Linked DNA regions of Homo sapiens. The protein of the gene in region 2 interacts with the protein of the main gene of each other region in a pairwise test. Each region holds a gene or a part of one and is shown on either strand. Other genes may lie near its edges.

Evidence for each region. Proteins that work in one complex are often made in the same cells at the same time.
Region 1: the proteins of MYOC (region 2) and COL1A2 interact in a two-hybrid assay, tested with the Homo sapiens proteins (one study listed by BioGRID).
Region 3: the proteins of MYOC (region 2) and HAGH interact in a two-hybrid assay, tested with the Homo sapiens proteins (one study listed by BioGRID).
Region 4: the proteins of MYOC (region 2) and RFC1 interact in a two-hybrid assay, tested with the Homo sapiens proteins (one study listed by BioGRID).

The regions. Positions count from the first base shown.
Region 1 is NC_000007.14:94,404,895-94,408,394, reverse strand, and holds part of COL1A2 (collagen alpha-2(I) chain precursor), read right to left. Parts: intron 3,197-3,500; coding exon 3,143-3,196; intron 2,723-3,142; coding exon 2,669-2,722; intron 2,146-2,668; coding exon 2,092-2,145; intron 549-2,091; coding exon 504-548; intron 213-503; coding exon 159-212; intron 60-158; coding exon 15-59; intron 1-14. UniProt on the Homo sapiens protein: Type I collagen is a member of group I collagen (fibrillar forming collagen).
Region 2 is NC_000001.11:171,634,919-171,640,198, forward strand, and holds the end of MYOC (myocilin precursor), read right to left. Parts: intron 3,805-5,280; coding exon 3,679-3,804; intron 1,792-3,678; coding exon 1,007-1,791; 3' UTR 499-1,006; downstream 1-498. UniProt on the Homo sapiens protein: Secreted glycoprotein regulating the activation of different signaling pathways in adjacent cells to control different processes including cell adhesion, cell-matrix adhesion, cytoskeleton organization and cell migration.
Region 3 is NC_000016.10:1,809,826-1,813,325, forward strand, and holds part of HAGH (hydroxyacylglutathione hydrolase, mitochondrial isoform 1 precursor), read right to left. Parts: intron 9-3,500; coding exon 1-8. UniProt on the Homo sapiens protein: Thiolesterase that catalyzes the hydrolysis of S-D-lactoyl-glutathione to form glutathione and D-lactic acid.
Region 4 is NC_000004.12:39,307,363-39,310,862, reverse strand, and holds part of RFC1 (replication factor C subunit 1), read left to right. Parts: intron 1-1,830; coding exon 1,831-2,227; intron 2,228-3,500. UniProt on the Homo sapiens protein: Subunit of the replication factor C (RFC) complex which acts during elongation of primed DNA templates by DNA polymerases delta and epsilon, and is necessary for ATP-dependent loading of proliferating cell nuclear antigen (PCNA) onto primed DNA.

The DNA of each region.
Region 1 (3,500 bases), on a different chromosome or scaffold from region 2:
GTGTCAAAACTTACAGCAGGACCCACGGGACCCACACTTCCATCACTGCCACGGGCACCCTAAGAAGAAAATAAAGGGAAGATCAGGTGGAAACTTAAATGACAGCCATTAGAAGATTTTTTAAAAGGATGAAACTGAACAAAAATGGAAGCACTTACAGCTGGGCCAGGGGCACCAACACGTCCTCTCTCACCAGGAAGCCCACGGGCTCCCTAGAAGCAGAAATATTTTCAATAAAATCCAGAATGCTAATTTAAAAAAAGTCACAGGCATCATTTGCTTTGTTCAGTTTCCAACCTGTACAAGAATACACTAAAAATAAATAAGTTGCCTTCTAATTCCAACTAAACAGTAGTGGATTTCAATTAAGTATCAGAAGGCTATTAGAAAAACATCAAAGAATACAATGCTGAAGGATACAGTGATTAGCAAAAACATTAAAGAAGTTCCATCTCATAAAGAGTGTACACATTTAAATTTACAATGAAGTAGTCAATACTTACTGTTTGACCTGGAGTTCCATTTTCACCAGGGGCACCAGGTTCACCCTACATGGAGAAGGATTGAGTTTTTGTTCATTAAATATAACAATTATTTTTCCTGATAGTGCAATTTTACTCTATTTTTTTTACTTTGAACCATTCATATACTTCATAATATTTCTTACACATATAGATTGTTTTTCAATTATGCCAGACACACAGATTTTAAAATGTGCTAACATGAGTTTTTATTCAGATAGTACCACATATCCAGGTTCTAAGGAGATGTGGTTATTTGAGTGTACCTCCTCCCCAATTTCTCCCTTAGATTCAGGATATCAATTATATACTAGAAACAATATCATAAAAAGAGATGGCAAAGGATAAATTTGCTTTCAATGTAACCATATTTATCCTTTTTAAAGTTATTTTGAACACTCAGTGTTATCACTTTCATAAAATGTGCATGAAAAATTGAAGCTTCATGGTATTTTTTAGAGCCATCATATTTATTTCCAATCTATATTCTTATCCTGAGTAAAAACCAGGGTAGTAGTAGTAGTAGTAGTGGGATTTAATACTATGGCACATGTAAAAGAACTTTTTTTAAAGATAATCTGATTTAGATATAGGGGAAATATGGTTTAAGAGACCTCATAAGGACCCTTAATTTCCAGGATTCTATGTGAAGTCTATTCTTTGGGAATAAGCATTGAAGTGGCAAGGGGGGATCATTTCTAGCCTATGACTTTCTAACCTCTAGATGTGTGACTTTGGGCAAGTCAATTGCTCTCACGAAGCCTCAGTTTCCCACCTCTGCAAAATGAGGGGGTCTCCAAAGCTCCTTGCAGCTCTAACATTTTATGATACAGTGATTAGTAGTCTGAGCTGTTATATCGGGCTCTTGGGAGAATGAGTTTGACCTTATCCATTTGTGTGGCAGCTGGAAAGTTAGAATAGATTCTCCATATTCATGTTCATTTCTGGTCCCGCTAGTATTCGTTACTCATTAATTTGTAATTACGTTGGTATTCACTTTAATATCACATTATCTCCTTAATAGGAAAGAGAACATTTTATAGTTGAAAACGCTGTCAGAGAAGAGCCTAGCCAAGAGATAACACACTTCTGAGACTTTAATTACCTAATTAAAATTTTTTTGAGTGTGCACAGATAAATCACAGGAAAGAGGTTGAAAAGTGTATAGCGACATGAATGTACCTATCTAATTAGTGTGTGGCAAAGGAGAATTTACAGTTTAAAATAATACAGAGTGTCGTAATCTCTGATTATATGTTTATTTACTTTTATTTTGGCTGCAGAGATACACTGGAATTATAGAGGGAGGAAAGGAAATGGAACAAGAAACTATTAATATTATTTTTATCTCAATTGTTTAATAGATATTGAATTTTAATAAATATTAATAATTGACCTTTTTTCACAGACTCTCATAGTCCCCATCCTTGAGGGATTTGAAGTACAGGAAAGAAAAAAAATAAAAATACTTTTTGTAATATGGGTAGTCTTCAGTATAATATACTTTTTTGGAGGTCATGGGGAATTTCAATCAAGTGCTTAAAAACAGTGCTTCTAATTTAATATTTACCTTCACACCAGGAGCACCGGGCTGTCCCTTCAATCCATCCAGACCATTGTGTCCCTGAAAGGAAAGCCTTATTATAAAATGCTGTTCCATGATAGTGTTTGGTCAAATAAAAATTGTATTGTATATCTTTGCCATTAATCTCTCTTGGGTAAGTCTTGTCTGCTGCAGTAGAAAGAAGTCCAGTGTTCCAGGTCCCAGCAAACTCAGTCTATTGCCCTAGATAGGTCACTTAACTTTCTTGCCATTGAGAGAGAAGGATGGAGGACTAGGTGTTCTCTCACATCTTTTCCATCCTTAATAATTTTATGATTTTCAGACGGTTGTAAATACTCAATAAGTAATACATGTTCTATATAATTTTCTCTGTAGTGAGCCTGTTTTTTGGTAGCTATGAACAGACTGAAAAAATTGCACCCCACTTTACTTTCAAGAAATCTGACTCTTTAACTCTTTCTTCCCTTTGGCAAACTCCAGGGATTTGAAAGTGAGTATATGTCACCCAAGATTTTAAACATACTTGAGTTTTTTCCAAAAATTAATAGGCATTTTCTCTCTTCTGAGTAAAGAATGTGCTCACCCTAATGCCTTTGAAGCCAGGAAGTCCAGGAGTTCCAGGGAAACCACGAGCACCCTTAGAAAGAAATACAGAAGATGGTGAATAATGTTTTACCATAAATAAAAAGACAGTGACTTCTTCCCTCCAAAGTATTTATTCTCATCAAAGTTCAAGCTTTGAACCAAAGTCTAGTATACCTCTAAGCACAGAGTGACAAATTAACTTGCTCTAATGTGAGTAACTAATAATACGGTATTTGTAGAAAACACAATTTAGTTGCTTATGGTATGCTTGCTGTCATTTATATTCCATTATTTGCATGAATAAAATGTATATGCATTTTTTTTTAACTAGGCTTTTTTCTTTATTAGATGCCTTCGATTCATGTTATGAGTTTGGGTGACATCTATGTTGTCATTTAGATTGATGCTAGTTTTAGCAACTATCTTATAGGCCTATGATGTTTGTGCTATCTACCAATGTAAAAAGTCTCACCTGTGGTCCAACAACTCCTCTCTCACCAGGTCGTCCGGGTTTTCCAGGGTGACCCTAAACATGAAAACATTGTAGAGTCAACTTCTTCTTGGTAAACTATCAGACAAAATGGGGGAATCTTGGTTTTTACAAAAGGGGAGAAAGTTATCACATAAAAATATGGATCCAGATATATATTTAATCTTTCCCTTAATACAAGTAGGTTAGTTAATATTTCATTAAAATAATATTTCCCATACATTAAGAGTTCTGTCAGGCATATTCAGCTTTTGGCAGAATACTTAATTTGAATCTAGAAAATCTTGTTGAGGCAAGAGTATTTAAATAGCATTTTGAAAGTGCTTAAGAGTAAATACTT
Region 2 (5,280 bases):
AAAAAAATTAGCCAGGCGTGGTGGCAGGCGCCTGTAGTCCCAGCTACTTGGGAGGCTGAGGCAGGAGAATGGTGTGAACCTGGGAGGCGGAACTTGCAGTGAGCCGAGATCGTGCCACTGCACTCCAGCCTGGGTGACAGAGCGAGACTCCATCTCAAAAAAAAAAAAAAAAAAAAAAAAAAATCAAAAGCAAACTGAAGTGGAGTTAGGGTGAATAGAGGGTGGGTTCAGGGGAGAGATGGAAAGATTGCTCCGGTAGTGCCGAGAGCACCAGGAGATGGAGGTGGGAAAGTGTGGATGCTGCTATTTGCTTGGCGTCATCCTGGGCAGCACCTCAAAACCAGGCACAAGCCTCTCAGTTACACACACACACACACACACACACACCACCTTTAACATCCTGCAATCACATCTCCCAACCTGAAGGAATTACCTGATGGTTGGAATCTATATCCTTCTCTTAAGCAAAGATTCCCACAAAGTTCAAGGAAGAGAACGTTGGGTAAGAAAATTTTATTTCACAATGTAAAGGGTTATGTGAGACCCAACTGTATTCTATCTGAAGCATTAGAAGCCAACTGTAGTAAATGCATCTTACTTATATTCGATGCTGGCCAGAGGAGCTATTCTGCTTCCTTTAGAAGTTATGCTTTTTATTGTGGCTTGTGGTAACCATGTAACATGCAAGAGCAATGGTTTTCAGGAAGAAACTATTATGCCTTACAGCTTTTGCCCCAAATCACAAGAAAACTTGAACTATGTCATTAAACATCCCATAAATGCTGACAGAAGATAAAGGATATTTATTATATGAAATTGTCTACGCCCTCAGACTACAATTCCTGAATAGTTAGATGGTGACCATGTTCATCCTTCTGGATTAATGAAAACTTGGAAAGCAGTCAAAGCTGCCTGGGCCCTGGCTGGCTGGCTCTCCCTTCAGCCTGCTCCCCCCAGGAGCCCTGAGCATCTCCTTCTGCCATTGCCTGTACAGCTTGGAGGCTTTTCACATCTTGGAGAGCTTGATGTCATAAGTGACCATGTTCAAGTTGTCCCAGGCAAAGAGCTTCTTCTCCAGGGGGTTGTAGTCAATCATGCTGCTGTACTTATAGCGGTTCTTGAATGGGATGGTCAGGGTCTTGCTGATACCTGTGCCTGTGTCATAAGCAAAGTTGACGGTAGCATCTGCTGAGGTGTAGCTGCTGACGGTGTACAAGGTGCCACAGATGATGAAGGCATTGGCGACTGACTGCTTACGGATGTTTGTCTCCCAGGTTTGTTCGAGTTCCAGATTCTCTGGGTTCAGTTTGGAGAGGACAATGGCACCTTTGGCCTCATCGGTGCTGTAAATGACCCAGAGGCCTGCTTCATCCACAGCCAAGTCAATGTCCGTGTAGCCACCCCAAGAATACGGGAACTGTCCGTGGTAGCCAGCTCCAGGGATTTCCTTCTCAGCCTTCACTGTCTCGGTATTCAGCTCATATCTTATGACAGTTCTGGACTCAGCGCCCTGGAAATAGAGGCTCCCCGAGTACACCACAGCACCCGTGCTTTCCAGTGGCCTAGGCAGTATGTGAACCTTAGAAGGGTAGCCCTGCATAAACTGGCTGATGAGGTCATACTCAAAAACCTGGCGGACATCCGTGCCAACTGTGTCGATTCTCCACGTGGTCTCCTGGGTGTAGGGGTAGGTGGGCTTGGGGTCTCGCATCCACACACCATACTTGCCAGTAATTGTTTCTGCTGTTCTCAGCGTGAGAGGCTCTCCTACCCAAACTAGTTCTCCACATCCTGGTAAATTCAGAAAAGAAAACGAAGCACCACTTAATCCATAATCTTTCCAAACACAGACAATGATCATGCGGAAGCTTGGCAGAGCCAGTAGATGTGACAGCCCTGGAGACAAATCGTCTGGGTTTAAAGCTAGGCTCTACCACCCGCTGGCTGTGTGACTTTCAGTAAGTTACTTAGCTCTCTACGCCTCAGTTATCGCATTTGTAAAAGGGGATACTAATAGTGTTTTGGGTAGTAGGGCTGTTGTAAATTTTAAATGTAATTATATATGTTAAGTGCTTGGTATAGAGTAAATATATGGTAAATGCTATATGATCAATCTGTGTTTCATGTTATTGACAATTATTGCTATCACTGAGGGGCATGCATGGGAGTGGGAGCTATAAAATATTTAAAGTACAATTCACTCAGTATCAGTTGTAAGGATGAAAGTTGCACAGAGGGCTTCAACTGCATTTGTAATATTCTACTTAAGCTGGGCAGGGACCCATGGGTGTTCATTGTATTACTTATTGTGACTTTCATGCCTGGTTTATTTCATTACTATAAGGTAGGAGAGAGAAAAATCAACTCATAAGAATAATCTCCATACAACAAAGTTTTTCAAGCCCTGATGAGTCACATATTTCATACATCATTTTAATATAATAAACATGAAAATAATTATTTTTTGAGACAGGGTCTTGCACTGTTACCTAGGCTGGAGTGCAGTGGTGCAATCACAGTGCACTGCAGCCTCGACCTTCCAGGCTCAAGCACCCCTCCCATCTCAGCCTCCTGAGTTGCTGGGACTACAGGTGCCTGCTACCACACCTGGCTAATTTGGTTTAGAAAATAATTTTTTAAATGTAGTGAAGAGACGGTTGAAAATTTAGAGTTACCAGAATCACAACAGATGTCTGTATTTTTTTTTTTTTTGAGACAGAGTCTCACTCTGTCGCCCAGGCTGGAGGGCAGTGGTGTGATCTCGGCTCACTGCAACCTCTGCCTCCTGGGTTCAAGCAATTTTCCTGCCTCAGCCTCCCAAGTAGCTGGGATTACAGATGACTGCCACCATGCCTGGCTAATTTTTGTATTTTTAGTAGAGACAGTGTTTCACCATGTTGGCCAGGCTGGTCTTGAACTCCTGACCTCAAGTGATCCGCCCGCCTCAGCCTCCCAAAGTGCTGGGATTACAGGCATGAGCCACCATGCCTGGTCCAGATTTCTCTACTTTTAATGGCACCTTCGGTTCCCTCATAGAAGGTAGAAACACTTTGCTGCTCATATCTTAGAGAACCGTGTTTTAAATATTTCATAACCCCTACTTGCATGCATGCCCTTCAGTGCTAGTAATCATTGTCAATAACATGGATAGTCAAAGTTTCTGGAAATCACAGTATTAGTCATAAAGTTGGACTTTCAGGGAACACTTTGGAGAGAGCCAAACTGTACTTTTCCTAAGTGGCCAAAGTTCAGAAAACATACTGTTAGTAACAGATTGTGGCTGAGATGGTGCTTGGTGTATACCTGTCCCTAAAATAAAGATATGAAGGCGCTACTGAAAAATGTAACTTCTCAAGTATATCTAATTCTACATGACAATCAAGTGGATGAAATCAACACATCTCTCATCTTGCCCTGTGCAGCCCAGCCCAGCCTCCCAAGTGTGGGTGATAGGATAGAGGGCTTTGTTAGGGAAAGGCTGACTCCTGCAGACCTGCTCTGACAAGGGAACAGAGAGAGAGAGAGAGTTCTGTTCCTCTTCTCCTCCCCTCCCTCTGCTCCCAGGGAAGTTAATTTCCCCCTTGGGTGGGCATTTACCCTATACTGATTCTCTGAACACAGCACTAGACATGAATAAAGACCACGTGGGCACAAAAGGGAAGAAACTTAACTTCATACCGGTGTCTCCCTCTCCACTCCTGAGATAGCCAGATGGGCTCTCCTTCAAAATTCGGGAAGCAGGAACTTCAGTTAGCTCGGACTTCAGTTCCTGGAAGGCCAAAGTGTCCAAATTCCACGTAGAAACTGCATTAAAAGAAAGAGACAAAATTTTACTGTAAGAAAAAATGGCCCAAGGATTGACTATGTTGAGGATGACATTTAAATAGGCTGCCGGCCAGGCGTGGTGGCTCATGCCTGTAATCCCAGCACTTTGGGAGGCCGAGGCAGGCGGATCACCTGAGGTCAGGAGTTCGAGACCAGCCTGGCCAACATGGTGAAACCCTGTCTTTGCTAAAAACACAAAAGAATTAGCTGGATGTGGTGGCAGGTGCCTATAATCCCAGCTTCTTGGGAGACTGAGGCAGGAGAATTGCTTGAACCAAGGAGGGGGAGATTGCTGTGAGCCGAGACTACACTATTGTACTCCAGCTTGGGCAACAAGAAAGAAACTCTGTCTGAAAACTAACTAACTAAATAAATAGGCTCCCAAAGATATGGTGTTTGAGATTTGATTTTAGATAAGGACTGGGGATGGGTTGGGGGTCAGAGAAGGGAAGATAAAACATGATTGGACTGTGCTGATAACAGTTGGGCCTGAGTGATGGCTACATTGGAGTTCATTGTAGTCTCTCTACTTTTGTGAATATTTGAACAATTCCATAATTAAAAACCTCATAAATAATAAATTGCAGGGCAATGTGCCTACCTTAGAGTAGGGTATTCAAAATCAAATAATATTTTAATTCCACTAGAAGGGCTGGTTTGTGAATAGGTGAGTCGTAATTTCAGGAATATGGAGACAGTCCTCAGCATCTTCTTAGATGTCTGAATTTCAATAATTAAAAATTCATGAAAAATTAGCTGGGCATGGTGGTAAGCATCTGCAGTCCTAGGTACTTGGGAGGCTGATGTGGGAGGATTGCTTGAGCCCAGAAGTTCAAGGCTGCAGTGAGCTATGATCCTGCCACTGCACTCCAGCTTGGGTAACAGAGCAAGGCCCGGTCTCAAGGTCTCAAAAAAAAAAAAAAAGAGACCGGGCACAGTGGCTCACACTGAAATCCCAGCACTTTGGGAGGCCGAGGCAGGCGGATCACTTAAGGCCAGGAGTTCAAGACTAGCCTGGCCAGCGTGGTGAAATTCCATCTTTACTAGAAATACAAGAATTAGCAGGGTGTGGTGGCACATGCCTGTAGTTCCAGATACTCAGGAGGTTGAGGATCACTTGAACCCAGGAGGCAAAGGTTGCAGGGAGCCGGGATTGTGCAACTGTACTCCAGTCTGGGCAACAGAGCAAGACTCTGTCTCAAGAAAAAAAAAAAAAAAAAAAAAAAAAAAGAAGTGTGGCTCATGTCTGTAATCCCAGCACTTTGGGAGGCCAAGACAGGAGGAGTACTTGAGCCCAGGTGTTCAAGACCAGCTTGGGCAACATAGGGAGACTCCTGTTAAAAAAAAAAAAAAGATAAAAGTTTACTGCATGACTTAAGGTTTTTTCCCTTGTTATATGCAAATATTCTTGTAAGAAGTAACATATTAAGCTTTATACTTTCAGTAGAAATATTC
Region 3 (3,500 bases), on a different chromosome or scaffold from region 2:
TACTTCTCCTGCAAGAGAAACGCACCACTTTATCACGGGAACTTCACAGGATGGCAGACCAGGCACGGAGGCTCACGTCTGTGATACCAGCACTTTGGGAGGCTAAGGCAGATGGATCACTTGAGCCCTGGAGTTTGAGACCAGCCTGGACAACATGGCGAGACCCTGTGTCTACTAAAAATACAAAAAACTAGCCAGGCATGGTGGCAGGCACCTGTGGTCCCAGCTACTCAGGGGGCTGAGGTGGGAGGATCGCTTGAGCACAGGTCGAGGCTACAGTGAGCCAAGACTGTGCTACTGCCCTCCAGCCTGGGTGACAGCGACATCACGTCTCAAAAAATGCTTCAGAACACCTCCTGGTAACCTTAGGACACTGCCCGACTGACAAGGCTGAGAAGGCAAGGTGAGCAGAGCCCGGCGGGTGTGCGCGTGTGGAAGAGGGAAGAGAAGCCAGCGTCCGGGATGAGCCACACATCCGCCTTCCCGCACCGGCCTGGAGAGGACGACAGGGACGGAGCTTCCTTTTCATTCACATGGTTTACATTTCACATTATGGAGGTAACAGCAATGCAGGAGACACAGAAAAGAAACCGCCACAGCTGCAGCCTCACAGCAAGCACGGGGAGGAGGGGCACAGGGACCAGCAGCAGGGGAGGCCACCCAAGCCCCTGCAGGCAGGCAGCTGGTCACCTCCTCTCGAGATGGAGATGGTCTCCCTTCCGACCAGCACTGACCAGGGCAGATGGGGTGGGGGCGGGGGGAGGAGAATGCAAACCCAGCCACGGGGCCAACAGTTAGCAGGAAAACACAGGGCGGCAACAGCGGGGTCTCCACACAGCCCCGGCCCTTCTACCGCAGCCGCACCAGGAGGGCCTCAGGGCAGAGCTCTGACAGAAGCTGCTGGTGCCCACGCACAGGCTCAAGACCACCGCGCCTCACCCCCGAGGTTCCCCACCCGCTATGGGCAGTGGTGTCGGTGAGTGACTCTTCAGCTGGTAGAGCTGCACCAAGCGGGGGTCTGGTAGATGCCAAGATGGTTTCTCACTAATCTGTTCTTCCCTTCTGGCGAAAAGAATCTGAGAATGTTTTAAAATATTCCCTGTGTTCCCACCAACATTCTCAATCCTAAGAAATCTCCCTCTGCCTCCTACGAGGGAAGCAAAGTTAACACTTCTAAGGAGACCTTTAAAACAGAGGAAGTACAAATTGTCATAAGCTTTTAGGTTACCTATTAAAACGAGTTTTAATGTTCTAGCTATTTTTCCTACAAAGTACGAAGCATTTAAAGACAAAAATAAGGTCAGTCAGCCGAGCGCAGTGGCTCACGCCTGTAATCCTAACACTTTGGGAGGCCGAGGTGGGTGGATTGCCTGAACTCAGGAGTTCGAGACCAGCCTGGGCAACACGGTGAAACCCCATCTCTACTAAAATAGAAAAAATCAGCCGGGTGTGGTGGCGGGTGCCTGTAATCCCAGCTACTGGAGAAGCTGAGGCAGGAGAATCACTTGAACCCAGGAGGTGGAGGCTGCAGCGAGCCAAGACCATGCCACTGCACTCCAGCCTGGGCAGCAGAGCAAGACACTGTCTCCCAAAGAAAGAACAACAGGCCGGGCGCGGTTGCTCACACCTGTAATCCCAGCACTGGGGGAGGCTGAGGCAGGTGGATCACCTGAGGTCAGGAGTTTGAGACCGGCCTGGCCAACATGGTGAAACCCCGTCTCTACTAAAAATACAAAAATTAGCCAGACGTGGTGGCACATGTCTGTAATTCCAGCTACTTGGGAGGCTGAGGCAGGAGAATCGCTTGAACCCGGGAGGCGGAGGCTGCAGTAGTGAGCCGAGATCGCACCACTGCACTCCAGCTTGGGTGACAGAGTGAGACTCTGCCTCAAAAAAATAAAAATAAAAAAATAAGGTCAGTCCTTGCAGCACAGCTCAGAAGAGCTCCACCTCGTGTGGGTTCTGGACTCCAGGGTGCAAAAGGAGTTGAAAACTCTCAACGTCCCTCCTATGGGGATTGGTAAAATGATTTATGGGTGACACCCACGCAATAGTATATTTTACACCTATCAAAAAGAATGAGGCCGGGTGTGGTTGGCACATGCCTGTAATCCCAGCACTTTGGGAGGCCAAGGCAGGAGGATCACTTGAGCCCAGAAGTTCAAGACCAGCCTAGGCAACATCGTGTAAACCCCCTCTCTACCAAAAATACAAAAATTAACCAAGCATGATGGCACAGGCCTGTAGTCCCAGGTACGGGAGACTGAGGCAGCAGAATCGCCTGAACCCAGGAGGCGGAGGTTGCAGTGAGCCGAGATTGTGCCACTGCACTCCAGCCTGGGCAGCAGAGCAAGACGCTGTCTCTCCCCAACCAAAAAAAAAAAAAAAAAGAATGACAGGCCAGGCACAGTGGCTCACGCCTGTAATCCCAGCACTTTGGGAGGCTGAGGCGGGCAGATCACGAAGTCAGGAGTTTGAGATCAGCCTGGCCAACATGGTAAAACCCCATCTCTACTAAAAATATAAAAATTACCCAGGCATGGTGGCACATGCCTGTAGTCCCAGCTACTTGGGAGGCTGAGGCATGAGAATCGCTTGAACCCGGGAGGCAGGGGTTGCGGTGAGCCGAGATCGCGCCATTGCACTCCAGCCTGGGCGGCAAGAGCGAAACGCTGTCTCAAAAAAAAAAAAAAACAAAAAAAAAACACACAAATTGTCAAAATCAGGAATGAAAGCAGGAATATCATTACAGATCCAGCAGACATTTGGGGGGTGGGAGTTCATACTAAGTTTTAAAACTATACAAATTCCAAAAATAAAATACAGGAGAAAATTTTTTGACCTTGGGATAAACAAAGATTTCTTAGATGGGAGACAAAAAAGAATGAAGCATAAAAGAATCTATTGGACTTCATTAAAATTAAAAATGTTGGCTCAAAAGATACTGCTAAGAAAACCAGAGGCCGCAGAATGGGAGGCGCCCTGCAGGAGGCGGCCTCTCACCAGGGACTGGGCTCCAGCACCTCCTTTCAAACGGCTGGCTCCACCGCGTGGGCTGGCTCCACCGTGTGGTGTGCCGAAAGACACGGACCAGCTGGTGTGCCCACGCCTTCCCAGCAGGAAAGCAAACACCACAAGCACCGGGGAAGGGGAGTTTGGCAGTTTCTTTAAAAGTCAAACACACCTCCCGTCCAGCCCGGCCACTCCCTTCTCCTGGGTGTTCACACGGGGCTGCGGCTGGGATGTCCATCCCTCCAAACGCATGCTCAAATCTGATCCCCAATTAATGGAGGTGTTTGGATCATGGGGGGAATCCTTTGTGAACGGCTTGGTGCCCTGCTCCAAGTGCGAGTTTTTGCTGTTAGTTCCCACAGGATCTGGTTGTTTAAAAGAAACTTTTGCCTCCCCCACTCTCTCCTTCCTCTGGCCACATGCTTCACACCCACCAGCTCCTTTCGCCTTCTGCCATGAGCAGAAGCAGCCTGAGGCCTCACCAGGTG
Region 4 (3,500 bases), on a different chromosome or scaffold from region 2:
GCCATATTCTCACGTTGACTTTATGCAAAGGTTATTGTTTAAGAGTTCCTTAAAGGATATTTTAATAGGTATTAGCATGATAAATTTGTTTTCAATTAGAACTGTATTAGGACTTTTTAAATTGTGCAGACACCTAGCCTGTATTAGCTTTTGCAAAAGGAAAAATGTTGGCTCACATAACTAAACTATGGGCAGGGAGGGTCTGGTCTAGGAACTATTGGATCCACAGACTACAAAGCTGTGAGGACCCCTTCAGTTTCTGTCTCTCTGTTTCTACTAGTTAGCCTCATTCATTCCCACTGTAGACCATCTTTTTTTACACACAGGACACAGGATTGCCAGCATTCCAAGATTTTAATGTCCCCAGCTCTGTCACCCAAATGGCAAGATGGTCCATCCAGGTTATTCCGGTTAGAGAAATCTAGGGAATGATTTCGATTACATAACCATAGCATAGTTATAAAAACCAGGAAATTAACATTGATGCCGTATTGTTAACTAACCTGTACATATTTTTCGAACCTTACATTTTTCCCTGTAGTTCTTCTGTTCCAGGGTCCCACACTGCATTTAGTTGTGTCTTCTTAGTCTTCTCCCGTCGATGACATTTCTTCAGTCTTTCCTTGTCTTCTTACAACCTTGACACTTTTAATGAGTACTGGTCAGTTTTGTGGAATGTCTCTCAGTTTGGATCTGTGATGTTTTCTCATGATTAGGTTGAGGTTATGCCTTTTTTCTAAGAACACCATGGATGTGATCTTGTGTCCTCAGTGCATCCTATCATAGATACAGGATGTCAATAACGTCTTATTATTAGTGAGGATAATCTTGATTATTTGGTTAAGATGATTCAGCATCCCACTGAAACTAGTGCTGGGTTCCTTCACTAGTAAAGTGACTATTTTTTCCTTTGTAATCGATAACTGTCTTGGCAGGAGAAGGAGGTACTTATGCTTATATCCTGTTTGTCCTTAAACATTCATCCACTAATTTTAGCATCCACTGCTAAAGAGGCACTAATTTTTTTAAAAACTGAGATATTACATACTATAAAATCCACCCTTATAAAGTATACAAATCAGTGGTTTTTAGTATATTAACAAGAGTATACAACCATTAGCACTGTGTAATTCCAGAACATTTTCCTCACCCTGAAAAGAAACCCTGTACCTATCAGCAGCCACTCATTCTATCCACCCCGTGGCACTCACTGCTCTGCTCTGTCTCTATGGATTTTCCTATGCTGGACGTTTCACGTGTGTATGGAGACATTAGAATATATGGCCTTTTGTGTCTGGCTTCTTCCACTTAGCATAGTGGTTTCAAGGTTGACCTGGGTTGTAGCATGTATCAGTGCTTCAGTCCTTGTTAGGGGTAAATAATATTTCATTGTGTGGACACATCCTATTTTGTTTCTTTTTCAGTTGATGGACATTTGGATTGTTTCCATCTTTTAGCTATAATGTGGTTATGAACATTTGTGTACAAGTTTTTGTCGAGGCATTAACTTTTAATTAGGAAACTTTGAAACAAAAATCTCAACACTGTACCTTGTTTTTTTCAAACTAAAATTGGAGTACTTATTACTTTTAAAAATCAACGTGTTGTCACTTTTAGAAATTGCATTTGGTGGTTTCTGGTGTGTTTGTTAATTTTTATAGTTTAGAAGGTGGTGATTTCCACAAACAGGAAAGTCTGTTGTGAAAAGACCAGCCCAGGTTGAGTAGCCCACTTGGATATCTCTGATTGCTCTCTGTAGTACGTTTAGCAGGATAGAAATTCTGTATGTTTCATCAGGTTTCTTTTTTCCTCATTTTTCCACTTCTTAAGATGAAGAAAGAGTCCAAACTGGAGAGAACACCCCAAAAAAATGTCCAAGGAAAAAGAAAAATTAGTCCATCTAAAAAGGAATCAGAATCTAAAAAGAGCAGGCCGACTTCCAAAAGGGACAGTTTGGCAAAGACAATAAAAAAGGAAACAGATGTGTTTTGGAAAAGCCTGGATTTCAAGGAGCAGGTGGCTGAGGAGACAAGTGGTGACAGCAAGGCTAGGAATTTGGCTGATGACAGCAGTGAAAACAAAGTGGAAAATTTGCTCTGGGTGGATAAATATAAGCCAACCTCGCTCAAGACCATAATTGGACAGCAAGGTGACCAGAGCTGTGCCAACAAACTCCTACGCTGGCTCCGAAACTGGCAAAAGAGTTCTTCCGAAGATAAAAAACACGGTGATTTTACAACCTCACTCATTTTTGTGTGTGTGTATATCAACATGTGATTGCTCAGTGGCACATATATGAGAAAATCTAACGATTCATTCATCTGTCAGCAAGCATTTATTAAGAGCTTGATCTGAACCCAGGTGCAGTACTAGACCCTGCTGGTGGTGTTGTGAACAAAACAGTCCCTCTCAGGAGCTCACAGGCAGTGGGGGAGGCATATCTGAACCAGCCATTAAAATATATTTGCCAAGTACTGCTAGAGGGGTAAGTCCAGGGTGCTGTGAGGATGAAGATGTGTGGTCAGGGCCAGGGTGTGTGTGCTCCCATCCCAGAGGAAGGGATGGCTAAGCTAAGACTTGGAAACAAAGTAGGAGCTAGCTAGGTGAAGGGAGGGAGAGATGAGTGTTGGGTAGGAAAGAGTATGTGTCCCAAGGTCTGAAGCCATGTGACAGCAAGACCCCTGAGTGGCAAGGGCACTAGGAGGAAAGCTGTGAATAAATAACAGAGGCATGCGTGCAGGGCAGTCAGCCTAAACTCCCAGTAGCAAGCACGATTTGCTGTGGCAGGCCCGATAGGCCTGTGCTTCTGTAGTTTCTGTCCTTGTTTATGATGTATTATTTGTCGTGGAGAGTGAAAAGCTCCAATATGTATTTAATGTCCAAAGTATTTTCTTAACTGAGCTTTGAGATCACAAATGTTTTAGTAGTGTTTTCAACATAGACCAGTGATGACTAGATTGCCAATCATCATTGCCAATGATGCCTGTTTATTTATAAAAATAATATATTGTAATGATACAGGACTAAATTTAAGTTAAATCACTTTTTTCATTCTGAAACTTCATAAAATCTCCCTTAAAAGAGGAGACAGGCATTTCATGTGCCTGGAGAAGACTGTTTTTTTTTTGTTTTGTTTTGTTTTGTTTTGAGACAGAGTCTTGCTCTGTTGCCCAGGCTGGAGTGCAGTGGTGCGATCTTGGCTCACTGCAACCTCTGCTTCCTGGGTTCAGGTGATTCTTCTGTCTCAGCCTCCTGAGCAGCTGAGACTACAGGTGCACACCACCATGCCTGGCTAATTTTTTGTAGTTTTAGTAGAGATGGGATTTCACCATGCTGGCCAGGCTGGTCTTGAACTCCTGACCTTGTGCTCTACCCGCCTTGGCCTCCCCAGGTGCTGAGATTACAGGCGTGAGCCACCGCACCCAGCCAAGAAGACTGTTTTAAAGCTTCGGGTGAACTCTAGTCCCTGTCTTCATGCCCGCTGGCAGTAGGTTGAAAAC